Homo sapiens: one gene and its partner. The protein of the gene in region 1 binds, or shares a complex with, the protein of each later gene. Each region holds a gene or a part of one and is shown in the gene's direction. Other genes may lie near its edges. The genes, in order: RAB3IP and RAB8A.

The links.
Region 2: the proteins of RAB3IP (region 1) and RAB8A are in contact, whole or in part, in a crystal structure (PDB 4LHX), measured with the Homo sapiens proteins. Residues at the interface, in NP_783322.1 of Homo sapiens: Ser199, Arg202, Asp203, Gly206, Leu209, Glu210, Thr213, Ala214, Phe217, Glu218, Ala220, His221, Val224, Asn228; in NP_005361.2 of Homo sapiens: Lys10 (codon at 3,919), Phe33 (codon at 3,988), Ser35 (codon at 3,994), Thr36 (codon at 3,997), Phe37 (codon at 4,000), Ile43, Asp44, Phe45, Lys46, Ile47, Trp62, Ile73, Ala76, Tyr77, Arg79, Gly80.

What each region holds. Positions count from the first base shown.
Region 1 is NC_000012.12:69,750,916-69,766,815, forward strand, and holds part of RAB3IP (rab-3A-interacting protein isoform alpha 1), read left to right. Parts: intron 1-4,468; coding exon of another isoform or gene 4,469-4,493; coding exon 4,494-4,744; intron 4,745-5,489; coding exon 5,490-5,748; intron 5,749-15,900. UniProt on the Homo sapiens protein: Guanine nucleotide exchange factor (GEF) which may activate RAB8A and RAB8B. Promotes the exchange of GDP to GTP, converting inactive GDP-bound Rab proteins into their active GTP-bound form.
Region 2 is NC_000019.10:16,108,011-16,120,488, forward strand, and holds the start of RAB8A (ras-related protein Rab-8A), read left to right. Parts: upstream 1-3,878; 5' UTR 3,879-3,891; coding exon 3,892-4,015; intron 4,016-10,215; coding exon 10,216-10,276; intron 10,277-12,478. UniProt on the Homo sapiens protein: The small GTPases Rab are key regulators of intracellular membrane trafficking, from the formation of transport vesicles to their fusion with membranes.

The sequences.
Region 1 (15,900 bases):
TAATAGCTATTTAAATAATTATTGCCCTAAATCCATTATTTCATTAGGATTCCAAAGTTATATTTATTAAGTGGAATTCTGCTAAAAAGAACTTTTTCTCATGAGCTGTTCAGTTCTTTGATATACAGGAAAGCCAGATAAAATACTTCATTCTTTCATTTTATTTACCAATTTTGAAAATAATGAATTGGTTCCATAGCATTGATCAGAGAAGGCCAGTGAGGTACTTTGCTTTATTTTTAGTGTCATTATGACCTCATGGATTTAAAAATATTTGCCTTTCAGTTCTTTGCAGATATTATCCTTTTTGATGTTCAGATTGTCCCGTTTTTGGTTAGTGGGAGTCCGTTTGATATCAGTCCAGTAGTTTTTGATGGTGTGCTTGCTTTCTGGTATAACAAGATGTTCCAGGGTCCTTTCGTACATTTCTGTCCCAGGCTGGAATCAGCCATTTTTCCCAAGGAGCCTGTGTTCTTTTTTTTGGAGGACATGGTATTACTCTGAGTACATGGGTGCGCATGGCTCCTGAGTTGGTCAGCGTTGCTATGCTGACCAACTTTTCATTGGATAAACTTAGAATTTTTTTTCTGGTGTTTCTGAGTAAAATTTAGGCCTCTAGGATTTAAATTCTTTGATTTTATATTTGTAGTTTTTCTAATATGCTGAAAATCTTAGTTCCAAATGACATTAGCATAACTTATTTGCTTCATCTTATAACAAAGTTTCAGAATCACAGTATCAATATTACTACTGTTATTAACATTGAAAATAGGTTGTGACTTTTTTCACTTCCTTTTGCTTTTAGAATACATTCCATTAGGGATATATATTTATGTTGTTATGTTTTAAAATCACTCGAAGTAGTTCTTTTCTGTGTGGTTAAGCTACCATCTCAGTACACAAGTTTATTTGCTTTATGTTTAGGGATTCTTTTTTAAACTTTAATTTTTACTGTTTACATGGTTCCAAGCTCAGAATCAAATCTGTAAAGCAAGGTACTTACAGAAAAAAGTCTAGCTTTCATATTTTTCACTCTGTCATCTCTCCTTCTATAGGTAACCATTTTGCCTGCTTTTTTTTCTTTTGTTCTTTTTTTTTTTTTTTTCAGGATAGGGTCTCGTTCTTTCACCCAGGCTGGAGTGCAGTGGTATAATCAAAGCTTACTGTACCCTCAAATTCCTCAGCTCAAGCCATCCTCCCATCTTAGCCTCCCAAGTGGTTAGGACTATAGGCCTGCACTATCACACCCAGCTAATTTTACAACTTTTTGTAGAGACAAGATCTCACTATGTTGCCCAGGCTAGTCTTTTAACTCTTGGCCACAATTGTCCTCCTGCTTCTGTGTGTCAAGTTTTTGGGATTACAAGTGTGAGCCACTGAACCTAGCCTTTCCATTAAAAAAAAATTATATATATATATTTATTTATTTTTATTCTCCTTTTTTAGATAAAAGGTAGTTTACTGTTATTTATCCTGTTTTTTATCTTACTGGTATATCTTCGATGTCACTTCATAGCGATACATGGATATGTATTTTACATCTGTGCAGTGCTTCATTATGAGGATGTACCCTGGTTCATTGAATCAGTTTTTTGCTATTACGAAGAGTGCTGTTGTCATGTTGCCAGTTTATCTTTAGGATAAAGCCCCAGGAGTGGCATGCTGGGTCACAGGTTTAATATCATTTTGAAGTTATTGCTAAATTTTCCTCCATAGGATTTGTACTATTTTGTATTTCCAGAAATGCAAATGCTTTTACGTTTTATGATTCAGTGAACCTTCAGGATATAAAGAGGTGAATTCATAGTATATGGGATAGAAGAAAGAATCATAAATAGTTACTGATTAAAATGTCAAAATTTAATGCAAACGTAATACAAAGGTTTTTTATGTTAATGAATTGGTTAGTGTACTTGCCTGAACTATATTCAAGTGAAAATGAATTATGTACTTTGAATATAGCAGTTTTCTTGGTATATGTGGGTATATGGATTATGAATAAAAAATGAAAATTCTTTTGGGTGAAAAAATAATAAATTTTAATGGAGTATTAAACACCTTACATTCCTTATTAATCTCATCTTTCATTTGGCATAGTGAATATTTTATGTGAAAAAAGCAAGGACTAGTTTCATTTTGAAGAATAAATCATTTGCTATTAGTAAACAGCTGATTGGATTTGAAATTTGTCATTTGTAGATTTAATTGTTGCACTTTGGGTTGTCTATATGCTGGAAAGTCTGTGACACATACTAATTTGTAATTTTGAAATGATACTGAGTCAGATCTCTTTCAACTTTGCTGAAATCTTTTTGTTTTTATTCTCTACTTGTATTAACACTTTTTATTAAGGATTTGAGAGTTAAATTTTTCAGCTAGTTTAACAAATGACTACTTCTGTATCTTATGGAAGAAATGATGTGCTATATTGTTTGGTTTGGCATTTTTTTTATTTTTATTTTTTGAGTTGGAATCTCAATCTGTCGCCCAGGCTGAAGTGCAGTGTCTCAGCTCATTGCCACCTCCTGGGTTCAAATGATTCTCCTGCCTCAGCCTTCCGAGATCTGGGATTATAGGCATGGGCCACCATGCCCAGCTAATTTTTGTATTTTTAGTAGAGACAGGGTTTCACCATGTTGGCCAGGCTGGTCTCGAACTTCTGATCTCAAGTAATCCACCCGCCTCGGCCTCCCAAAGTGCTGGGATTATAGGTATGAGCCACCAAGCCTGACCTGTTTGGCATTTTCTAAGTTCCGGGAAGATGTTATTCACAACTGTCAAAGTACTATCATAGGAAGGAAAAAAATTGGAAAGAGAGATTGGATTCAGATCCTAGAAGACCTTACTTTTTTGGCTAAGAAGTTTGGTCTCTATTCAGCAGACAGGGAAAATCAATAAAGAATTTGTAAGATGCCATTTAGCTTTGAATTCTTCAGAGGAAAAACTTGAGTGGTACACTCAAGTTAGTTTCCATGTAAACTTTGTGATATAATTGAATAGTTACATGAACTGTTTTTTGCTTATGGAGAACCTGAAGCATATGTGGTATTGTTAGTGGCTGGGCTATGATAATTCAAGTTTATTGAGGCCATACTCTATGTCAGGTACATAGTACTCTACAAAATACTTTACATGGATTGTCTCCTTCAATCCTCACAGCAACCAGGACAAGGGAGGGGCTAGTGTTATCCCCATTCTAATCTCATCAGAGGAGAAATTTAAGGCTTATAGAAATGAAACACATTATCCAGGATTGGATCCTGTACATATAAAGGATATTATTGGAACAATTAGTGAAATTTGAATGGGGCCTGTTGATTAGATGGTAATTTTAATCAATGTTAACTTCCAGATTTTGATGATGATTTTGTGGTTAGATAGAATGTCCTTGTACTTAGGATACACACACACATACACAGATACACGGGCACACACACACACACACACACACACACTGTGTATATGTATACATTGAGATATTAAGTGGGCATCATGTCTGAAACATTCTTAAATGACTCAAAAATATTAACAATTTCATAATCTGGGTGACAGGTATGAGAGAGTATGTGTGTGTCTTTACCGCCTTTCTACTTACTCTAACCAAGGTCATGTATAATCAGAAAGTTAAATATAAATTCAAGAGATCTATGGTACAGCAGGATGACTGTAGTTCCTGACGATATATTGTAAATTCTTGAAAAATGCAGAGAGTAAATGTTGAGTTTTCTCATAACAAAATAATGGCATGAGGTAACGCATTCGTTAATTAGCTAGTTAGCTATTTCACAATGTGTATGTGCCTTCAAACATGTTGTACATGATAAATACAATGTTCTCTGTTAAAAAAATTGTTTTAAGAGTTTCACAGCATAATATAATTGTTATTGAGTCTAAGATTGCATAATACTGTTAGATTTTGTTTTTAGTATTTTCATATTTAAATAGTATACTGAGATAATTTATTTTAATATGAACATTTAATAATTTTAAAATATTTTTAAAAATTAAGCCAATTTTTATTCATTCCTCATACTAATTGATTATTCTCACTTTAACAGCATTGCTTATCACTTTCAGGTTTCTTCTAAATCAGATTGTTTGCCTTTTGTAGTAGTTATACTGTGAGATCGCTTAGTAAATGTTAAGTGATTGTGGTGTTTTGTTTTTGTTTTTGTTTTTTGAGTGGGAGAAGGTCTTGCCCTGTCACCCAGGCTGGAGTGCAGGGTTGTGATCACGGCTCACTGCAACCTGCATTTGGGCTCAAGCAATCCTCCCACCTCATCTTCCCGAGTAGCTGGTACTACAGGCATATACCACCATGTGATTGTGGTTTTTTAAAAAAAGCCTCTTTTATTGTAAGCTTATAATTTACAATGGACTGTTAAACACATTTTATAATTTATGCATTTTAATTTAGTTTTAAATGTTATTATCTAAAAATAAGTATCTGCTTTTTGTTTTAACATAGGTTATCTTATGATGAGGCTTTTGCTATGGCTAATGATCCCTTGGAAGGCTTCCATGAAGTAAACCTTGCTTCACCTACTTCTCCGGACCTTCTTGGTGTGTATGAATCAGGAACTCAAGAGCAGACTACCTCACCAAGTGTCATCTACCGGCCACACCCTTCAGCTTTATCCTCTGTACCTATCCAGGCAAATGCATTAGATGTTTCTGAACTTCCTACACAACCCGTGTATTCATCCCCCAGACGTTTAAATTGTGCGGAAATATCTAGTATCAGGTAGGAAATAAGTAAATCACTTATTTGATTTTTTTTAAAATGGACAGTTTGCTTAGTTACTATATTTTAAGTTTTACTATTTTTAGAAAATTTGAATAACTTAAGTGTGCCTAGGTAAAGAAATACATGACCTGATAATGTTCTAGAACAGGGTTGACAAACTTTATATGTGAAGGACCAGATAGTAAATATTTTAGGCTTTGCAAGCCATGCAGTCTCTGTTGCAACTATTCAACTCTGCCTTTAGAGTTTGAAAGCAGCCATAGACAGTATGTAAATGAATGAGAGTGGTTGTGTTCCAATAAAACTTCATATATGGATGCAGAATTTTGAATTTCATTTAATTTTCATGTGTCACAAAATATTCTTTTAAAGATTTCTTTTCAACTATTTGAAATTGTAAAAACTATACTTGGCTCATTGATACCTTATAAAAACGGGTGGAAGGCTTGGTTTAGCCTGTAGGCTATAGTTTGTTAACCCCTGCTCTTGAGTAGCACTGTCCTGTAGAACTTTCTGTGTTGATGAAAATGTTCTATTTCTGTGCTATCTAATATGAATGATAGGTATTAACCACATGTAGCTATTGAGCACTTGAAATGTGGCTGATATGACTGAGGACATACTATTTATTTAAATATAGAAGCTACCAAATTGGGTAGTACAGTTCTAGAGCTGTGTGTTTAAGCCAGTTCTATTGGAGCATATGCTGATATTTTCTGAAAAATGTCTCTCTCCTTTACAGCTTTCATGTTACAGACCCAGCCCCTTGCTCTACCTCTGGAGTCACAGCTGGATTAACTAAATTAACTACAAGAAAGGACAACTATAATGCAGAGAGAGAGTTTTTACAGGGTGCTACTATAACAGAGGCTTGCGATGGCAGTGATGATATTTTTGGGTTGAGTACTGATAGTCTGTCTCGTTTACGAAGCCCATCTGTTTTGGAAGTTAGAGAAAAGGGCTATGAACGATTAAAAGAAGAACTCGCAAAAGCTCAGAGGGTAAGAAAGAAGATATTTTATTCTTCCATATATTATATTAGAAATTAGTATTTCTCCATGGGGTGGGGCAACCTGCAGAAATGAAATCATGATGGTTGTACATTTATCCGTCACATATGCCCAGCCTCAGCTCCTGTTAGGCAGCATTTAGGAATCCGTGAAACTGGTTGGGTAGTAAAGAAGTTCCTCTAAGACTACTAACTGGAAAAATGTGGCTCTGTTAACTCTTCTGTGCCCCACTGCATTGCCTGCTCCCTGTCTCGTATTATCTGTAATGCAGATTGAGTGGGCTATATTCCACATGCAGGGTTTTTCCTTCTTACTACATGGCTGACTAAATGGTTATTTACTTGAAGTCACTCAGTCTAAGTCATTTTGTTTTGAGTTTAAGCTGAGTTTGAATATTTTCTGTATCTTACCTTGGAGAATTTTCTTGGTAAATTGTTGTGTTTCCCATTTGGTCATTTTAAAAGTTTCTGCTATTTATTTCCAAACTTGTGGCCATATCTTATTCTTTTTCTGAGTCTGCAGTTAAATTTCAGAGGAAAATTTATAGAATGAAATGCATACATCAGAAAACAGGAAAAGTCTCAAATGGACAATCTAAGCTCCCACTTTAAGAATCTGTAAAAAGAAGAGCAAAATAAAACCAGAGCAAGTAGAAGGAAGGAAATAATAAAGAGCAAAAATCAATGAAATTGATAACAGAAAAAATAGAGAAAATGAGTGAGACAAAATGTTGGTTCTTTAAGAAGATTAATAAAATTGCAAACCTCTAGCAAGACTGACAAAAAGAAGACAGATTTATCAGTAGCAGGAGTGAAATGCAGGATGTCACTGGAGACTCATATCAAAAGTATAATGGAATGATATGAAAAACTGCATATATAAACCTGACAACCTAGGTGAAATACCAATTCACATGTAGAAAATTGAGAAGGTAGGGCAAACATTTATAGGTGTAATATCCAACCTACCATGACATTTCACAAATGTATTCCCACTCTTTCCCTAGCATACTTGTCTCTCATGAGCGTAGTATATTCATTTTTTTAATCCCCAGTTCCTTCCCAAAGGAAAAGGATGTGGTGAGATGTGGTTGCATTTTGTTTCTGTCATCTGGCTCAGACTTTGTTGTCTTAATAGATAGTATTTTATTAAAATCACACATTATATAGAGGTAAAATTTTGAGTATATGTATCCATCTTTGAGAACACATGGTTATTGATCAGAACAGATTGCTAATTTCTTAGCTCACTTGAGAATTTCCTTTGAAATCTCTAATATGCTGTATTTAGAGATACTGTTTGGATAATTGAAATGGTGATGTGTAAACACATATGTGGTGACTTTTATGAAGAGTATAAGTTAGTATTAATATTTACTTAGATCTCAAGGCTTGAAAAGGACTCTTGAATATAAAAATACTTCCTGAATTGTGACAACTTGTGAATCAAACTATGTCAACAGCCATTTTCTTTAGTCTTATCTTAAGAGAGGCCATTTTCTATACTTTTTACTTACTTGGTTAACTGTGTCTTCCTATTTAATACGAGTTTCTTATAGATAGTGTACAGTTAGGTCTTGTTCTTTTGATCCTTTGTAATTATCTCTGTCTTTTAATTGGTGTTTAGACCATTTACATTTAATGGATAATGGTATAGTTTGGTTTAAATTTACCATCTTACTGTTTGTTTTCTGTTTGTCTCATTTGTTCCTTTTTCCCTTTTGTATCCTTTCTTTTGAATTAATTCTGTATTTTTAAAACAATTTCATCTTCCTGTGGCTTTTATCTTTGTTGCTTTAGCGTTTATAGTAGACATATTTAACTTATCACTCTCTACCTTCCGGTGATATATTACTTTACATCTGGTGTACAAACCTTACAAAAGTATACTTTTATTTTTCCCCTCCTAGTTTTTGTGCAATAATTGTTGTATGTTTCACTTCTTTGTGTGTTTAAACCCCACAAAACACTATTGTTTTGCATTAAACAGTATTATCTTTTAAAGAGACTTAAATAATAACAAAGAATCTTTACATAGATAAACATCAGAAATGTTAGCTACATGGGCATCTGTGTGTTCATTCCTTTTTTTTTTTTTTTTTTTTTTTTTACAAGTTTTACTTTTATTTTTGAATGATAGTTTAACGGGGCATACAATTCTAGGTTGATGGTTGTTTTTTTTTTTCTCAACAAACACTTTCATAATTTTACGTCTTTGTCTTCCGGCATCTATCATTGTTGATGAGAAGCCAGCTGTCAATGTAGTTGTCATTCCTTTGTAGATAATTGGTTTTCTTCCTCCTTCTGGTCACTTCTAAGATTTTTTTTTTTTAATTGATCATTCTTGGGTGTTTCTCGCAGAGGGGGATTTGGCAGGGTCATAGGACAATAGTGGAGGGAAGGTCAGCAGATAAACAAGTGAACAAAGGTCTCTGGTTTTCCTAGGCAGAGGACCCTGCGGCCTTCCGCAGTGTTTGTGTCCCTGGGTACTTGAGATTAGGGAGTGGTGATGACTCTTAACGAGCGTGCTGCCTTCAAGCATCTGTTTAACAAAGCACATCTTGCACCGCCCTTAATCCATTTAACCCTGAGTGGACACAGCACATGTTTCAGAGAGCACAGGGTTGGGGGTAAGGTCATAGATCAACAGCATCCCAAGGCAGAAGAATTTTTCTTAGTACAGAACAAAATGAAGTCTCCTATGTCTACTTCTTTCTACACAGACACAGCAACAATCTGATTTCTCTATCTTTTCCCCACCTTTCCCCCTTTTCTATTCCACAAAACCGCCATCGTCATCATGGCCCGTTCTCAATGAGCTGTTGGGTACACCTCCCAGACGGGGTGGTGGCCGGGCAGAGGAGCTCCTCACTTCCCAGAAGGGGCGGCCGGGCAGAGGCGCCTCCGACCTCCCGGACGGGGCGGCGGCCGGGCGGAGGCGCCCCCCACCTCCCTCCTGGACGGGGCGGCTGGCTGGGCGGGGGCTGAACCCCCACCTCCCGGACGGGGCGGCTGGCCGGGCAGGGGCTGACCCCCCACCTCCCTCCCGGACGGGGCGGCTGCCGGGCGGGGGCTGACCCCCCACCTCCCTCCCGGATGGGGCGGCTGGCCGGGCGGGGGCTGACCTCCCACCTCCCTCCCGGACGGGGCGGCTGCCGGGCGGAGGGGCTCCTCACTTCTCAGACGGGGCTGCCGGGCAGAGACGCTCCTCACCTCCCAGACGGGGTCGCGGCTGGACAGAGGCGCTCCCCACATCTCAGACGATGGGTGGCCGGGCAGAGACGCTCCTCACTTCCCAGACGGGGTGGCGGCCGGGCAGAGGCTGCAATCTCGTCACTTTGGGAGGCCAAGGCAGGCGGCTGGGAGGTGGAGGTTGTAGCTAGCCGAGATCATGCCACTGCACTCCAGCCTGGGCAACATTGAGCCCTGAGTGAATGAGACTCCGTCTGCAATCCCGGCACCTCGGGAGGCCGAGGCTGGCGGATCACTCACGGTTAGGAGCTGGAGACCAGCCCGGCCAACACAGCGAAACCCCGTCTCCACCAAAAAAATACGAAAACCAGTCAGGCGTGGCGGCGTGCGCCTGCAATAGCAGGCACTCGGCAGGCTGAGGCAGGAGAATCAGGCAGGGAGGTTGCAGTGAGCCAAGATGGCAGCAGTACAGTCCAGCTTTGGCTCGGCATCAGAGGGAGACCGTGGAAAGAGAGGGCGAGGGAGACCGTGGGGAGAGGGAGAGGGAGACTGTGGGGAGAGGGAGAGGGAGAGGGAGAGCCTCCAACTCTCCTCTTGCTCAGGATCCGTTTGGGGACTTGCTCTGTGTGTTCATTCCTTTGGTATTCATTTCTTCATGTGGATCCAGATTTCCAACTCGTATCATTTTTCCTTTGGCTTGAAGGACATCCTTTTACATTTTTGTTGTGCATGTTTGATGGTGATAAATTCTTTTAGCTTTTGTATGTCTGTGTTCATTTTTGGTTTTTGAAAGATATTTTCACTGAGTAAAGAATTTAAGATTGATAATTTTTTTTTTTTTGTTACTGTAAAGATGTTGCTTCAGTGTTTTCAAGCATGTACATTGTTTCTCACAAGAAGTCTGCTGTTACCCTTACCTTTGTTCCTCTGCGTATTAGGTCTTTTCTCTCTGGCTGCTTATGAGAGTCCTCTCTCACTGGCATAAGCAATGTGATTGTGATTTGCTTTGGTGTAGTTTCTTCAGCTTTCTTATGTTTGGGATTTATTGAGCTTCTTGAAGCTGTAGGTTGTTAGTTTTCATAAAATTTGGGAAATTTTGGCCTTTATATCTTCAAAAAGTTTTCCATTCTTCCTCTCTCTCTCCTTTCCTCTGGATTCCTATTACATGTACATTAGACTGCTTAAACTTATCTCACAGCTTGCTGGTGTTACAGTCTTTCATTTAAAAATCTTTTTTTCCTCACTGTGTTTCATTGTGGGTAGTTTCTATTGCTATGTCTTCAAAGTCACTACTCTTTTCTTCTGAAATATCTAATCTGTTAATCCCATACAGTATGTTTTTAAACTAGACATTGTAGTTTTCATCTCTGAAAGTTTGATTTGGATCTTTTTTATACTTTGCTTGCTCTGCTTAATATGTTGGGATGCAGTTTAATAAATGTTTTGTTTCTAATTATTTCATCTCTTCAGATAATAAGCTGGGGCAGATCTGGGGTGCACATTTTGTTTTTCATTTCTAGGGGATCACTGTCTTTTATTGCCTAATATCAAATGCTTCAAATTGTTGATCCATATATTTTTTCAGAGTTTTAGTTGTGTCAGATGGGTGGTAAATCTAATCCCTGTTCCTCTATCTTAATTGGAAGTGAAAGTTCTACTTACTCATTTATATTACTTCATTGTCTACCCCATTCAAGTAATCCACATAGAAAAACCTGCATTTATACACACATGCTTCAGTACTTCTGAGATTCATGAGGATAAGGATTGCATATGTTTGTGCTCATGATTATATCTTGAGCATATAATGGGTTTTCAATACATTTTGTTGATTAAATGAATATATACATGTATATGCGGTTATACAAGTGTTTGTATACACACATGCCTGATATATTAGGGTGATGCTTATAAGTAACCCCCAAATTTTCGTGACTTTACCTAATAGAAGTTCATTTTTATTCATTTAACACTCTGAAGCAGATGTTCATAGTTGGTAGGCAGTTCTCTGTGAAATAATTCAGAGATCTGTTTCTCTTCTGTTTGGGGCCTTTGTAATTTCTTAGGGTTTTATTGTTATTTGTATCTAACCAATGAGACAAAAGGGAAAGACAGCTTAGAGAAGGTACAGCTTCTTCTAAAAAACCTTGGCTTAGATATGATACACATCACTTTTGCTCACATTCTATTGGTGTGAACCTTTCATGCCAATACCTAGATGTATGGTGGGCTGGGTAATGTAATCCCTGGATGGACAACCACTTCCCAGCAACAAATCCATACTGTGTGTGTAGGGGGACCAATCATGTGGTCACTTATTTTCAGGTGCAGGGATGCCAGAGATTATGATGTAGTCATTTAGCTGTTTGGCCTTCCATAGGATATTTCTGAAGAGCAGCTTTTAGTGGAATTCTCAGGAGGAAATTGGGCTTTAGTGCATTCTTATTAAGTATAGATCCTTGCACTCTACTCCAGATCTGCTGAAATCAAATTATTGTGTTGAGGTTTGGGAATATGCATTTTCATCAAACTTGTTGATTCTTACATTCACTAAAAGGTGAAATCTGCTGTAAGAGGTTATTTTAAACTTTTATTTTTCTTAAAAGAAAATGAGCTGGGCGAAGTGGCTCACGCCTGTAGTCCCAGCACTTTGGGAGGCCGAGGCGGGCAGATCACCAGGTTAGGAGATCGAGACCATCCTGGCTAACACGGTGAAACCGCTTCTCTACTAAAAATACAAAAAATTAGCCAGGTGTGGTGGCAGACGCCTGTAGTCCCAGCTGCTTGGGAGGCTGAGGCAGGAGACTGGCGTGAACCCAGGAGGTGGAGCTTGCAGTGAGCTGAGATTGCGCCACTGCACTCCAGCCTAGGCAACAGAGGGAGACTCCGTCTCAAAAAAAAAAAAAAAAAAAAAAAGAAAAAAGAGAAAAAGAGAAAAAGAAAAAGAAAATGAAATGACTTAGAAAATAAAGCCCAGTAGGATAGCTTGCAAAGAGAGTCATTGAAAATCACATACTTGCACTAACCCTATTCAGTATTGGTTCTACTAACTGTAGCCAAAGACATTTGTAAACATTAACAAATATTTTTTTATGAGATAAAACTATAAATTTTATTTTGCTTCTCAACATAAGCTCCGTCAAGTTGAAGACACTTTTATAAGGGATGATAACCAGCCATTTAGTTCATCCTTAAAGAACTGAGGGTGCTGGGAATTTAACCATGTCAATGCAGTCTTTTTTACATTATTAGCTGAAGAAAAATGGATGCTTTTTAAATATTTTTTTAAGATTGTGAACAAAGAATTCTGAAGGAGCCAAATAAGGATTGCAAGGTGTATGCCTAATGATTTTTCATGGAAACTCTCACAAAATTGCCCTTGATGAGAGGAATGAGCAGGAACATTGTTGTGGTGGAGAACGACTCTGGTGAAGCTCTCTTGGGCATCTTTCTGCTAAAACTGTGACTAACTTTCTCAAAACACTCTGATAGTAAGCAGTTGTTAACCATTCTTTGGCCCTCCAGAAAATCAACCAGCAAAATGCCTTGAGCATGTAAAAAATTGTTGCCATGACCCTTGCTCTTGATCAGTCCACTTTTGCTTTGACTGGACCACTTCCACCTCTTGGTAGCCATTGCTTTGATTGTACTTTGTCTTCAGCATCATACAGGAAAAGTTATGTTTCATCTCCTATTATAATTCTTTGAAAATGCTTCAGGATCTTGATCTCACTTGTTAAAATTTTTTTTTCTTCAACTTTTATTTTAAATTTAGGGGGTATATGTGCAGGTATATTACCTGGATATATTGTATAGTTCTGTGGTTTAGGTTATGAATAATCCTGTCACCCTGGTACTGAGCATAGTACCCAATTGTTAGTTTGTCAGCCCTTGTCCCCCTCCCCTGTCTAGTAGTCCCCAGTTTCTATTTTTCCCATCTTTAGGTCCATGAGTACAATGTTTAGCTCCCACTTATAAGTGAAAAAAATGCAATACTTGGTGTTCTGTTCCTATGTTAATTTGCTTAGGATAATAGCCTCCAGCTGCATCAGTGTTGCTGCAGAGGAATTTATTTTGTTCTTTTTTAATGGCTATATAATATTCCTTGGTGTATATGCACTACATTTTCTTTATCTGATCCACTGTTGATGAGCATCTAGGTTGATTCCATGTCTTTGCTATTGTGCATAGTGCTGGGATGAACATGTGAGTGCATGTGTCTTTTTGGGAGAACAGTTTATTTTCTTTTGGATATATACCCAGTAATGGGATTGCTGAGTTGAATGGTGGTAATTCTTTCCCAAGGCTGATGTCCAGAATGGTGTTTCCTAGGTTTTTTTCTAGGATTCTTATGGCTTATGGATTCTTATGGCTTATTCCTAGGTTGTTTTCTAGGATTCTTATGGCAAAGATTTCTTACATTGAAATCTTTAATCTATCTTAATTTTTGTATATGGTGAAGGGGGATGGGTATTCCAGTTTCATTCTTCTGCATATGCCTAGCCAGCTATCCTAGCACCATTTGTTGAATAAGGAGTCATTTCCTCATTGCTTATTTTTGTTGATTTTTGTCAAAGATCAGATGGCTGTAGGTCCAGGGCTTTATTTCTGGGTTCTGTATTTTGTTCCATTAGTCTATGTGTCTGTTTTTGTACCAGCACCATGCTGTTTTGATTACTGTAACCTTATAAAATAGATTGAAGTCAAGTAATATGGTACCTCTGACTTCTTTTTTCAAAGGATTGCTTTGGCCATTCAGGCCCTTGTGTGGTTCCATATGAGTTTTTAAATACTTTTTTTTTTTTTAGTTCTGTGAAAAACAACATTGGTAGTTTGATAGGAATACCGTTGAATCTGTAGATTGCTTTGGGCAGTATGGCCATTTTAACAATGTTGATTCTTCCAGTCCATGAGCATGAAATATTTTTAAAATTTCTTTGTGTTATTTATGATTTAACGGTATTTTATAGTTCTCTTTGTAGAGATCTTTCACCCCCTTGGTTGGATGTATTCCTAGGTATTTGTGTGTGTGTGTGGTTATTGTAAATGAGATTGTGTTCTTGATTTGCTCTCACCTTGAATGTTATTGGTGTATACAAATGCTGCTGAATTTTGTACATTGACTTTGTATCTGGAAACTTTACTGGAGTCATTTATCAGTTCCAGGAACCTTTTGGAAGAGTCTTTATGGTTCTTCAGGTATAAAATCATATAGTCTGTAGGAGAGGTAATTTGACTTTTTCTTTTCATGTTTGGTTGCCTTTTACTTTTTTCTCTTGCTGGATTCCTCTGGCTAACACTTCCAGTACTATGTTGAATAGGAATGGTGAGAGTGGGCATCGTCGTCTTGTTCCAGTTCTTGGGGAAGCCTTCCAATTTTTGTCCATTCAGTATGATGTTGGCTGTGGGTTTGTCATAGATGGCTCTTATTATTTTGAGGTACATTTCTTTGATGCCTAATTTCTTTAGCGTTTTTATCGTGAAAGGATGTTGGATCTTATTGAAAGCTTTTTCCACCTCTGTTGAGATGATCGTATGGCTTTTGTTTTTAATTCTATTTATGTTGTGAATCACATTTATTGACTTGTGTATATTGAACCAGTCTTGCATCCCAGGAATAAAGCCTACTTGATCATAATGAATTAACTTTTTGATGTGCTGTTGGAATCAGTTTGGTAGTATTTTGTTGAGGATTTTTGAATCTGTGTTCACCAGGGATATTGGCCTGTGTACTTAAGTGTGACCAGGAGGTCTGCCTGAGCATGGAGCAGAGAGGACCCGCCTATATCAAAGCCTCTGCACAGGAGGAGTGAGGCAACTCAGGCTGCCGAACGAAGCATGCAGGTGCTTTGAATGCATGGAGATCTGCCTGGGCATGTGGCAGAGAGGATCTCTAATTTTTGTGGTAGCAGGTATCATTCTTTTGTTTCTATGTTTAGAACTCTCTTAAGGGTATCTTGTAAGGCTAGTCTAGTGGTAATGAATTCCCTTAGCAGTTGCTTGTCTGGAAAATATTTTATTTCTCCTTTGCTTATGAAGCTTAGTTTGACAGGATATGAAATTCTTGGTTAGAATTTCTTTTCTTTCAGAATGCTGGAAATAGGTCCCCAATCTATCCTGGCTTGTAAGGTTTCTGCTGAGAAGTCCAAAGCCTGGTATGGCTCCATTTGTATGTGATTATGTAATCTAACCTTTTTCTCAGCCTTTAAGTATTTTTGTTTGTTTTGTTGTGTTTTGCATTGACCTTGGACAGTCTGGTGACTATGTCCTGTGACGATCTTCATTTTGGATAGTATCTTGCAGTTCTCTAGATTTTTTGTATCTGGGTGTTTACCTTTCTAGCAAGGTTAGGGAAATTTTCTTGAATTACTCCCTCAAATATGTTTTCCAGGTTGTTTACTTTTTCTTCTTCTTAGGAATGCCAATAATTCATAGGTTTGTTTCTTTTATGTAATCCCATATTTCTCAACGACTTTGTTCATTTTTTAAAATTATTTTCTCTTTATTTTTGTTTGACCAGGTTAATTCCAAAGACCATTTTTCAAGCCCTGAAATTCTTTTTTCTGTTCGGTCCCATCTGTTGCTAAAGCTTTCAATTGTATTTTCAAATTCCTTACGTCAGTTTTTTGGTTCCAGAAACTCTGATTTCTTTTTCTTTTCTTTTCTTTTTTTTTTTAAGACAGTTTCACTCTTGTCACCCAGGCTGGAGTGCAATGGCACCATCTCGGCTCACTGCAACCTCCGCTTCCCAGGTTCAAGTGATTCTCCTGCCTCAGTCTCCCGAAGTAGCTGGGATTACAGGCGCCTGCCACCATGCCCAGCTATTTTTTTTTTGTATTTTCAGTTGAGATGGGGTTTCACCATGTTGGCCAGGCTGGTCTTGAACTCCTGACCTCAGGTGATCCACCCACTTCGGCCTCCCAAAGTGCTGGGATTACAGGCATGAGCCACC
Region 2 (12,478 bases), on another chromosome or scaffold:
CACACCTGTAATCCCAGCACTTTGGGAGGCCGAAGTGGGCAGATCACCTGAGCTCAGGAGTTCGAGACCAGCCTGGCCAATGTGGTGAAATCCCATCTCTACTAAAAATACAAAAATTAGCCAGATGTGGTGGTGGGCCCCTGTAATCCCAGCTACTTAGGAGGCTGAGACAGGAGAATCACTGGAACCCGGGAGGCAGAGGTTGCAGTGAGCTGAGATCGTGCCACTGCACTCCGGCCTAGGCAACAAAGAGTGAAACTCCATCTCAAAAAAAAAAATAATAATGGTATAGGGCCAGGCATGGTGGCTCATACCTGTGATCCCAGCTTTTTGGGAGGTGGAGGCTGGAGGATCTCTTGAGCCCAGGAGTTTGAGACCAGCCTGGGCAACATAGGGAGACCCCATTTCTACAAAAAATAAAAAAATTAGCCTGCCATAGTAGCGTGCAGATGTAGTCCCAGCTACTTGGGAGGCTGAGGTGGGAGGATGGCTTGAGCCCAGGAATTCCAGACCAGCCTGGGTAACATAGCAAGACCCCATCTCTACAAAAAATAAAAATTAGCCATGCGTGGTGGTGCATGCCAGTAGTTCCAGCTACTCTGGAGGCTGAGGTGGGAGAATCACTGGAGCCTGGGAGGCGGAGGTTGCAGTGAGTGAAATCACACCATTGCTCTCCAGCCTGGGCCACAGAACAAGACCCTGTCTCAAAAATAAGTAAATAAATGAGGATAATACCAAGAAAAAAGAATATTCAGAGGTGATCAAGACTATCAAATACCACAGAGGCTGAGGCCTGTAGGTGGTCAATGCCTCTGGTTGAAGCTTTTTTAACCAGAGCTAGATTAGCAGAAGAATGAGCTGAAGTGGAAGGGAGGAGGAAAGGCTGGGCCCTCCTTCCACAGATCCTTAAGTAAGCCTCAAGGCCCCGGAGGCCCCAGAGTGACCTAGAACAGACTGGACCATCTCTAAGAAGCAGGGAGCCCTAGTGATCAAACTGCGGCCTGGGAAGCTTGGCACTCTGAGTTCAGATACCAAATTCCCACTTTTAAGCAGGAAGGGGGAAAAGTCACTTAACCTCCTCTGGCTTCAGTTTTCTCACCATTAAACAGGAAAAAAACAATAACATCGTTTTGCTGGGCTGGTACTGGGATTAAAATTTTAAGAGTCAGGGGCCGGGTGCAGGGGCTCACGCCTGTAATCCCAGTACTTTGGGAGGTGGAGGCAGGCGGATCACGAGGTCAGGAGTTCGAGACCAGCCTGGCCAACACAGTGAAACCCCATCTCTACTAAAAATACAAAAAAATACACCACACCAGGCGTGGTGGTGGGTGCCTGGAATCCAAGCTACTTGGGAGGCTGAGGCAGGAGAATCGCCTGAACCCGGGAGGCAGAGGTTGCAGTGAGCCAAGATCGCGCCATTGCACTCCAGCCCTGGTGACCGTGAGAGACTCCATCTCAGAAAAAAAAAAAAGTCAGGGTCTTGCTCCGTCGCCCAGGCTGGAGTGCAATGGTGCGATCACAGCTCACTGCTGCCTTGACCTCCTGGGCTCAAGGGATCCTCCCACCTTAGCCTCCTGAGTAGCTGGGACTACAAGCATACACCACCATACCTGGCTAATTTTTTAAAAAAATTTTTTGTTTTTTGAGATGGAGCCTTGCTCTGTCACCCAGGCTGGAATGCAGTGACACAATCTCGGCTCACTGCAACCTCCGCCTCCCAGATTCAAGCAATTCTGGTGCCTCAGCCGCCTGAGTAGCTGGGACTACAGGCGCACATGACCACACCTGCCTAGTTTCTGTATTTTTAGCAGAGATGGTGTTTTACCATGTTGGCCAGGCTGGTCTGGAACTCCTGACCTCAGGTGATCCACCTGCCTTGGCCTCCCAAAGTGCTGGGATTACAGGTGTGAACCACCTCGCCTGGCCAAAAAACTTTTTTTTTTTTGCAGAGATGGAGGTCTTGCTATGTTGCCCAGGCTGGTCTCCACCTCCTGGCCTCCAATGAACCTCCACCTCAGCCTCCCAAAGTGCTGGGATTACAAGCGTGCACCATGACGCCCAGCTAATTTTATTTGTTGTAGAGATGGGGATCTCCCTATCTTGTCCGGGCTGGTCTTGACCTCCTAAGCTCAAGCAATCCTCCTGCCTCCCAAAGTGCTGACTCCCAAAGTGCTGGGATTACAGGCCTGAGCCACCACACCCAGCTGCAAGCCCGATTTTCCAAATGTATCTCTCCTCTGTTTTTCTCTTTCTTTTTTTTTTTTTTTTTTTTTTTGAGACGTAGTCTCATTCTGTCGCCCAGACTGGAGTGCAGTGGCGCGATCTCGGTTCACTGCAGGCTCCGCCTCCCGGGTTCACACCATTCTCCTGCCTCAGCCTCCCGAGTAGCTGGGACTACAGGCGCCCGCCACTACTCCCGGGTAATTTTTTGTGTTTTTAGTAGAGACGGGGTTTCACCGCGTTAGCCAGGATGGTCTCGATCTCCTGACCTCCTGATCCGCCCGCCTCGGCCTCCCAAAGTGCGGGATTACAGGCCTGAGCCACCGCGCCCAGCCTTTTTTTCTTTTGATAGGGTCTTGCTCTGTCGCCCAGGCCGAATTGCAGTGGGGCGATCACGGCTTACTGCACCCTCAACCTCCTGGCTTCCCAAAGCACTGGGATCACAGACGGGAGCCAACGCCCCGGCCAGTTTTTTCAACGTTGAGAGCCCTGGCCCCTAGATAGGACCCAGCATCCTCACTGCTCTAACCCCTCCCCCCCCACCATCCCCGGGCTGGCCCGGACAACCCCTAAGGTGGCCGAGGGCGGGCCCTGAGGAGGCCGGCGCGCGCTTCCGGGCACAGCTTGTGGCGGTGAAGCCGCTCAGATGGCGGAGGCCTTGGGTATCTCTAAGCAGATCGCTAGGCCGCAGACCTCGGAGCTCGTCTTGGGTCACTTTTATTTATTTTTTTTGAGACGGAGTCTCTCTCTGTCGCCCACGCTGCAGTGCAATGGCGCGATCTCGGCTCACTGCAAGCTCCGCCTCCCAGATTCAAGCAATTCTCTGCCTCAGCCTCCCGAGTGGCTGGGATTACAGGCGCCCGCCACCACGCCCGGCTAATTTTTGTATTTTTAGTAGAAACGGGGTTTCACCATCTTGGCCAGGCTGGTCTTGAACTCCTGACCTCGTGATCCACGCGCCTCGGCTTCCCAAAGTGTGGGAATTAAAGGCGTGAACCACCGCGTCCGGCTTGGGTCACTTTTCGAGTATACAGCTCCTCCTCTCTCCTTCCTCCCTAGGCCCCCACTGCCCCGACTCGCAGGCCGCAGACAAGGCTGAGAGCGCTACCTTGCTTTCCCGCGCTCGCCTCGGTGCCTACTGCGCCTGCGCGAGCTGTGAGGGCGGGACCCAGAGACACCCGCCCCAACTACTGGCGTGCGCCCTCTGCTGTCGCCTAACGGAACTCCGGGCGCGCGTGCGCACGCACCCCAAGCCACGCCCCGCCAGGCTGCCGGCGCGCGAGCGGTTGGCGCCGCTCCCTGCCTTCCCTCTCCTACAGTGGGGCGGGGCCGGGCCGCCCGAGTCGGGGGTGGAAGGCGGGGGCCACATAATGCCACGCCCCCGCCTCGTCCCCATTTGAAGCCCCGCGACTCTTCACTGCTGGTCAATCAGAGCCCGTGCTCTCCCTAGTGCCGGCCAATGGGAGGTGCGCTCGGGCTGCTTCCGGCTCCGCGCTCCGCTCGCCCCCTCCCAAGGTCTCCCCGCGACTGGCGGGACGCAGGGGCGGGCGTCGGCCGCGGTGACGCGCAGCGGGCCTGGAGCCAATAAGGGGCGGGCTCGGTGCTGATGGACGGTGCTGGTGGCCAGTGGAGAGGCGCTGGCCGCACTTCCCGTCGGGGAGAGAGTGTAATATGGCGAAGACCTACGATTACCTGTTCAAGCTGCTGCTGATCGGGGACTCGGGGGTGGGGAAGACCTGTGTCCTGTTCCGCTTCTCCGAGGACGCCTTCAACTCCACTTTTATCTCCACCATAGGTAACGGGACCGGGGAATGGCTGGGGGCGCCGGAGGCCCGGGCTGGGCGCGCCCCTGAGGGGCTGGGGCTGAGGGATCTACAGGGCTGGACGGGCCGAGGGCGCTGAGAGGGTCGAGGGGGCCTAAAGGGAGAAGAGCAGTCGCCTGCACCGCCGTTCGGGGGTTCCTGGGCCGTGGTGGGGGAGACCAGGTGCCCATTTTGCAGATAGGGAGACTGAGGCTCCGACCCTCAGCCCGCTCGTTAGGGCGTGTTATGTCTTGGGCTGGGGTCTTCGCGCCCGTCCTCTCGATCTGTCCTAGCAGCAGCCCTCGAAGCGGTTCTTTTGAGGCTCTTGCCTTACAGAAGTGGAAACTGAGTCATGGGGAATTGGCCATGGGAAAAAGACAGTGGCATCTCACCTTAATGAGCATTTACTATGTGCCAAGTGCTTCACGTGCATTTTCACACTCTTCAGTTCTTGGTGTTAAGTGCTGTTATGAGCCCGTCTGACAAGATGAGGAATCTGAGGCTCAGGGAGGGCATGGAACTTGCCCAAGGCCACACAGTCTGCACGTGGTGAGAATGGGATTTGATGGAATTTGAACCTGGCTGTGTCTCAACCCAAAACTCGAGGCTTAGCTCTCCTAGAGAGATGCCACTGCACACTCCCAGCTGATGACAAGCTCAGCTAATGCACCTTGGAGCCGGGACTCTAACCCACACCATTCCTGCTCTTTTCTCTGGAGCGTTCAGAGGTTGAGCCCCTCTCCCTGACCATGCTTCCCCTCATAAGCGTATTTTCCTCTAGAAGGAATGATAAGAAGAGTCAGGACCTTTTCCCTGCCCACCTTTCATCCTGCTCCAGGAATGACAGCAATGGCAAGTGACAGCACTGCCTGCCCTGGGACCTGTCATCCCCAAGAAGATGCAAGATAAAAGCCTCAGCGAGAAACTAAATCAGCCACTGCCACAGACAGCCTTGACTTCCCTATCAAAGGGCCCAAGACTCCAGCTGTCACTTTAGAACAGCTTTTCCTGTAGGGCCAGCCCACATTGTGGTTGAACAGAATTGGCTTGGTGCATCTCAGTTGTGATGTCCACAGAAGTGGAGCTGACCTCTCTCAGTGCCACAAAAGCAGTCCTGGCCCACAATGAAAAGGTTTGACCCAGGAGTAACACCTATTTGAGTGGCTTGTGAGCTCTGTAGCCCTGCTAGGGATGGGGAAAGTGGGGGAACGGTCACTAAGTCCAGGAGTTTATTCCGACTCAAGAAAACCTAGGGAATGGCCTTTGCTTTACTGTGTCACTTTGACAGAATCGTGTTATCTCCCTGAACCCCAAGATAATGTGCTAATTCCATTCTTGCCCTCCTCCAGGAGCTATGCTTTATTTATTTTATTTTATTTTATTTTTTGAGACGGAGTCTAGCTCTTTTGCCCAGGCTGGAATCCAGCGGCAGGATCTCGGGTCACTACAACCTCTGCCTCCCGGGTTCAAGCAATTCTCCTGCCTCAGCCTCCCTAGTAGCTGGGATTATAGGCACCCGCCACCACGTCCAGCTAATTTTTGTATTTTTAGTAAATACAGGGTTTCACTGTGTTGGTCAGGCTGGTCTCGAACTCCTGACCTTGTGATCTGCCTGCCTTGGCATCCCAAAGTGCTGGGATTACAAGCATGAGCCACCGCACCCAGCGGAGCTGTGCTTTATAAAACAGTTATATGCCAGATGTAAAATAGAGAGAATTGACTGGAAATCATTACGTCTGGTTTCCAGTTGCTGTTTGCCCTTGAATGTGCACTACCCCTCTCTGAGCCCTGCTGTCTTTAGAGCAGGAGTGACACTGTCTGCCCAGCCTAGTGCCCTGGTGGTTGAGGATTAGAATTAGACAATAAGGGGTTGTCACCACAACCAGAGGCTATCTAGAGGAAGCAAATGAATGGCTCCTGCAGTGACAGCATCCAGCCTCTGAAGACAGATGTTTCTGAATTCTTCCCCCTCCCCCACTCCAAGGCTAAACTTTAGGGTAATTCTTGTGCTCCAACCAATCAAGAAGTGGCGTTAATTCAGCCTGGGCAACATGGCAAACCCCATCTCTACAAAAAATAAAATAAAATCAGCCGGGCACAGTGGCTCACCCATGTAGACCCAGCCACTTGGGAGGCCAAGGTGGGAGGATCGATTGAGCCCAGGAGGTCAAGGTGCAGTGAGCTGTGATGGTGTCACTGCACTCCAGCCTGGGCAACAGAGCGAGACCCTGTCTTAAAAAATAATAATAAAAATAAAAGAAAGAAAGAAATGATGTTAACTGTGAGCAGACTGGCTTGCATTCACTCAGATCCCAGTTTCCCAGCCTTCCCCACAAACCCCCCTCTTTTTTTTTTTTTTTTTTTGAGACAGTCTCTCTTTGTCACCCAGTCTGGAGTGCAGTGGCGCGATCTCGGCTCACTGCAACTTCCACCTCCCAGGTTCCAGCGATTCTCCTGTCTCAGCCTCCCAAGTAGCTGGGATTACAAGCACCTGCCACCATGCCCAGCTAATTTTTGTATTTTTTTTTTTTTTTTTTTAGTAGAGATGGGGTTTCACCATGTTGGCCAGGCTGGTCTCGAACTCCTGACCTCGTGACCGCCCACCTTGGCCTCCCAAAGTGCTGGGATTACAAGCATGAGCCACCGCGCCCAGCCCAACCCCCCTCTTTAGAGTTACTTTGAGCTTTAAAGAGGCTTTCTTCCATTTGCAGATGAGGATGTGACTTGGTGAAAGTTACCTAGCAAGGTGGAGGTGGCACCTGACCCTAAGATCCCTCCCTCCCACCCCTTCATTCCCCTCCTTCCATTTGTAGCCTTCTGTCTTCTAGGAAAGTCTAATTCACCATGACCTTGAAGGTCAGACCTCATAATTCTTAGGCCTCATAAAGTTTACACTTCCTAATTAAATTTGGCATGTTAATAAAACCCAGAGGAGTGTAGGGCGGAGTGCTGCTGTGGAGCTTGGCCAACCTAACAGTGCTCCTCGATTTTTTGTGTCCCTGTACACGTGTGACAGGAAATGGGGAATGTTTTAGGAAGCCCAGGCACACTGGGCTGTCTAGTCCTGAAGCAGTATCACCTTAATGCTTAAAGGTGATTCCATAAATTAGCCATACGTGGTGGCGCTTGCCTGTATTCCCAGCTACTCAGGAGGCTGAGGCAGGAGAATCGCTTGAATCCAGGAGGCAGAGGTTGCAGTGAGCCAAGATTGTGCCAGTGCACTCCAGCCTGGGCAACAGAGCAAAACTCTGTCTCCAAAAAAAAAAAGAAGCAATTCTATATTGGCTGAGTGTACCTCTGGGTTTTCTTTATAGACAAGGATTGAGTGGCTATTCATTTTCTGCCACTCAATCCTTAACATTTTGCCAAAAGTTACATTTCATCAAAGCCTATTCTCAGAAGCCCCATAGATCATTTGTGGTGTGAACTTGGCCCTGTAGCTCCCTGGAATGGGTTCTCACCAGCCTGGCTCGGCGCCACTGCCTCCTCAGGGGCCCATTGATTCCTCCAGTGAAAGGGTTGGCATTTGAGAAAGTGCTTTGTGAACCGCTCAACACCGCGTAGACCCTGTTGCGCTTTAATACTTTGATCCAGCCATATTTTGCCAGTGTCTTCTGTGGGCCAGGCAGCCATTTTGGCAAGAGGGCTGCAGAAAGGACACAGGTGAGTCAAGGTGCGTGCAGGACTGGGGTACCAGCTTCTAGCAAATGTGTATTCAACCCCTGTGTGTTCAGTCACTGGAGGTAATAGCAGTGGATGAGACTTGTCAGTTCCCTGCCCCAGGGAGCTTACGTTTGAGAGGGCGAAAGTCCAGTGCTGGGGCTGGATGGATGGAATTAGCATCCCCACCCTGGGTTCAGAGAGGCCCAGCCAGGCCTGGGCCTCAAGTCTTCCCCAGCAGGCACTTGAACAAACTCCTGGTGGCAAAGGCTGGGTCTGGCTGTTTCTCATCTACATGGGCCATTATGATCTGCAAGCATTATGCCCAGGTCCATGCAGCAGATACATACATGTATGTCAGTTATGTTAATAAATAGGTAAAGGGAGAACTGATGAGGATGGTCAGAAAGGTTCCCCTGAGGAGGGAACTTGAATGGGAACCTGAACAAAGGGATAGCCAGGTAGCTACAGAAGAAAGAACTTTCCAGGGCAGGGAAGAGCAAACATCAAAGCCCCGAGTCAGGAGCATGCTTGGAATGTTGAGGAAATCGCTGTGTGGATGGTGTGGCCAGAGAGAGCAGGTCATGAGCCAGAGTGCTGAGAGGTGACCAGGTTAGGCAGGACCTTGACACACATGAGCAGCTGTTTCCACTTTATTCGAGGGAAGTGGGGCAGGGAAGCCACTGAAAGAGGCTTTAAAAAAAAATAGCTTTATGAGATAGAATTCGCATACAGTTCACCCATTTGCAGTGTACAATTCAGTGGCTTTGGGTACATTCACAGAGTTCCACAACCATCACCACAGGCAATTTGGGAACATTTTTATTATGCCAAAAAGACACCAACCCAAGGCCAGGCACGCACGGTGGCACAGTGGCTCACGCCTGTAATCCCAGTACTTTGGGAGGCTGAGGTGGGCAGATCACGAGGTCAAGAGATCGAGAACAGCCTGGCCAACATGGTGAAACCCTGTCTCTACTAAAAATAGAAAAATTAGCTGGGCATGGTGGCGCGTGCCGGCAGTCCCAGCTACTTGGGAGGCTGTGGCAGGAGAATCACTTGAACCCGGGAGGCAGAGGTTGCAGTGAGCCAAGATTGCACCACTGCACTCCAGGCTAGCCAAGATCGCACCACTGCACTCCAGGCTAGCCAAGATCGCACCACTGCACTCCAGCCTGGTGACAGAGAAACTCCATCTCAAAAAAAAAAAAAAAAAGGATACCAACCCTTCCAGTTTCCCCATGTGCCCCCCCAGCCCCAGACAACTGCTAATCAGCTTTCTGTTTCTATGAATGAGCCTATGCTGGACATGTCTGTTAATGGAATCTCACACTAAGTGACCTTTAGTGTCTGGCTTCTCTCAGCATCCTGTCTTCAAGGTTCATCCACATTGTATAGCATGGATGAGTACTCCGTTCCTTTTTATGACTGGGTCATATTCTGTTGTATGGTTGGACCACATTTTGTTCATCCATTCATCTGTTGGTGGACATACTAGAAAGTTTGGAGCAGAGGGCCGGGTGCGGTGGCTGATGCCTATAATCCCAGCACTTTGGGAGGCTGAGGCAGGCAGATCATTTGAGGTCAGGAGTTTGAGACCAGCCTGGCCAACACGGTGAAACCCCATCTCTACTAAAAACTCAAAAATTGGCCGGGCATTGTGGCAGGCACCTGTGGTCCCAGCTACTCGGGAGGCTGAGGCAGGAGAATCACTTGAACCTGGGAGACAGAGGCTGCAGTGAGCCAAGATTGTGCCACTGCACTCCAGCCTGGGCGACAGAGCGAGACTCCATCTCAAAAAAAAAAAAAGAAAGTAAGTTTGGAGCAGAGGTTAGCTGTGTAACATGGTTAGGGTTATATTTTTGAAGGCTGGGGAGGGGACTGCGGGTGAACAGTGGGAGCCTGGGGAACATCAAGGTGGCTGCGAGGTCACCGTGGGGAAAGGGGATGAAAGCGGGAGGTGAGAGACAAGGAAGATGGGGTCAGGAAGGCTTGTTAGGAGGTGATCTTCAAGGGGGCCTTAAAGGAGGAGAAGTGTGCCTAGCTGACGGGCCAGTGGGACACAGACCACCCGCAGAAAATGAATAGCATGTACAAAAGCTGGGGGCAGGAGAGAACGTGACCATGTGCATTGACGCATGGTGGGGCCTAAGGCCCTGTGTGCCTGGGGGTTGGTCAGCTGCAGGGTGTTGGGGAGCAAGGGACTCAGGCCTGCAGAGGGCTCTGTTGAGACCCACTCCGTACAACTGCCTGGGGTGGGGAGGCGGGTTCAGCTGGCAGCAAGGGACAAGAGCAGGGCTTTGCCACCCGCGCCCCCTGGGTTTGCTCTGCACTGCTCCCATCAGCTCTTGGAGAGGGAAAATATCTCCAAGTGTTTCCAGATCTGGATATTCCGACATCCTGCATGCCCAGCACCAGGCAGGGTCTCCGTAAGCCACAACAGCTGTCACCTGCACAGGTTGGTGGCGCCCAGCTCAGACACAACTTGGGAAATGGGCTGACAGTGACGTGCCTTTTTTCTTTTTTCTTTCAGGAATTGACTTTAAAATTAGGACCATAGAGCTCGATGGCAAGAGAATTAAACTGCAGATATGGTAAGAGTCATTGTTCTCTGTCATTCTCTCCACCTGGCAATGGCTTCAAGCCAGAAGCCCTTGGCCTTCTCCCTCCACCGTCCCTGTGACCTTGGCCTCCATTTCTTGGTGCCCAGTCCTGGCACATGGGGCTTTCTCCAGAAGCTCCTGGAGGTTTATACCCAGCCCAGAGAGCTGTCCTCTGCTGGCTGCAGGGCACCAGGGCCTACAGCATCATAGGCACAAAGCTGCCCAGCCCTGGCTAGCTCAGTGTTCCACAGTGGGCACCATCTGGGTCTGGCCTTCAGAGTGGGCTGCTTCTGTTGAACGGGAAGAGAGCCCTCTCAGTGCCAGGTGCTGGTGACGCCTGCAGGGACTGTGAGATGCCCCAGCCGAGAGTTTCCTTTTGAGCCTCTCAACCCACTCAGAAGCATAAAGGTCCAACTTCACTTCCTCTTTTCTCCCCTGGGGCAGGCCTGGCCTCCCTTCCTAGCGTACAGACCGAAACCCCAAACCGAAATTAAGCGGAGGGCCGGGCCCCATGTTGAGACCTGTTTCCATTCCTGAGAACTAAGGGTGACTTCCCATGCACATACAATTAGGGAAGTGGGGAGACTCCAAGTCGCCATCGCTGGCCTGATTCTAGTTTGCTGAGACTGAGTTCAGGTGGCGGGTATAGTGGGGTCCTGCCCTGCACACATGCCACTCGCACAGAGTCACTGGCCCTGAGCAAAACAAAGAGAAGTCACATTTAAGAGCATGGTGCAATTTCCCTGTCACCCAAACCAGGCAAGTGCCTTTGAGTGGGAGCAGTGTGCCAGGAGATGGGCCACGAAGTCATCCTCCCTCAAGTCTCAAAGTTTGACCGGTCACCCCCACTTGCCAGTTTCAGGGAGCCCCACAGCTACCCTTGACTCCAGGTGCTATTCACCTCTTCTTTTTTTTTCTTCTTTTTTTGAGACGGAGTTTCGCTCTTGTCGCCTAGGCTGGAGTGCAATGGCGCGATCTTGTCTCACCGCAACCTCTGCCCCCCGGGTTCAAGTGATTCTCCTGCCTCAGCCTCCCAAGTAGCTGGTATTACAGGCATGCACCACCACGCCCAACTAATTTTGTATTTTTAGTAGAGACGGGGTTTCTCCATGTTGGTCAGGCTGGTCTCCAACTCCCGACCTCAGGTGACCCACCCACCTCGGCCTCCCAAAGTGCTGGGATTATAGGCGTGAGCCACCACGCCCGGCCCTACTGTTCACCTCTTAATCTGACTTTGGGAGTCGGGTAGGTTTAACTTGCAGTTCATCCTGCAGACATTGGTAGTAAGTCAAGCTCTGGCTGCCTTGTAAGTTCCAAGCCATGGAAGTTTCTCCACTTCCAGCACGTTGGTGCCATGTCACCCTTTGTTCCCAAGTCCAAAGTGACACTGCATCAGCAAGCAGAAGTTTCACTTTCCTCCTGCCTTCCTGCTTCTGCTCTTAGCAATCGTGGTGAGGTTAGTGACTCAAAACTCTTCTAAGGACTGTAGTTGAAAAAAAAATGACTGGTTTTTTTTTTTGTTTCTTTGTTTTTTTGAGACAGAGTTTTGCTCTTGTTGCCCAGGCTGGAGTGCAGTGGCACGATTTTGGCTCACTGCAACCTCCGCCTCCTGGGTTCAGGCAATTCTTCTGCCTCGGCCTCCCAAGTAGCTGGGATTACAGGTGCCTGCCACCACGCTCGGCTAATTTTGTATTTTTAGTAGAGACGGGGTTTCGCCATGTTGGCCAGGTTGGCTTCGAACCCCTGAATTCAGGTGATCCACCCGCCTCGGCCTCCCAAAGTGCTGGAATTACAGGCGTGAGCCACCGCACCTGGCAAAAATGACTGTTTTTAACCACTCATGTCTCCTGCTGCTGGTGTCAGAAAGTCAGCTTAGCTCCAAGCAAGGTGTTTCTGCACAATCCAGACGTATAGAGCCCTCCGGGTCCCAGCAGGGCCGTGGGAGGAACCCTGGGCTTGGAGACAAAAGACCTGAGTCTTGCCCTGGCTCTGTCACCAATCAGTTAGGTCACCTTTAATTTTTTTTTTTTTTTTTTTGACAAAGTCTCACTCTGTCACCCAGGCTGGAGTGCAGTGGCATGATCTCAGCTCACTGCAACCTCCACTTCCTTGGTTCAAGCAATTCTCGTGCTTCAGCTTCCCGAGTAGCTGGGATTACAGGCACCTGCCACCATGCCTGGCTAACTTTTGTAT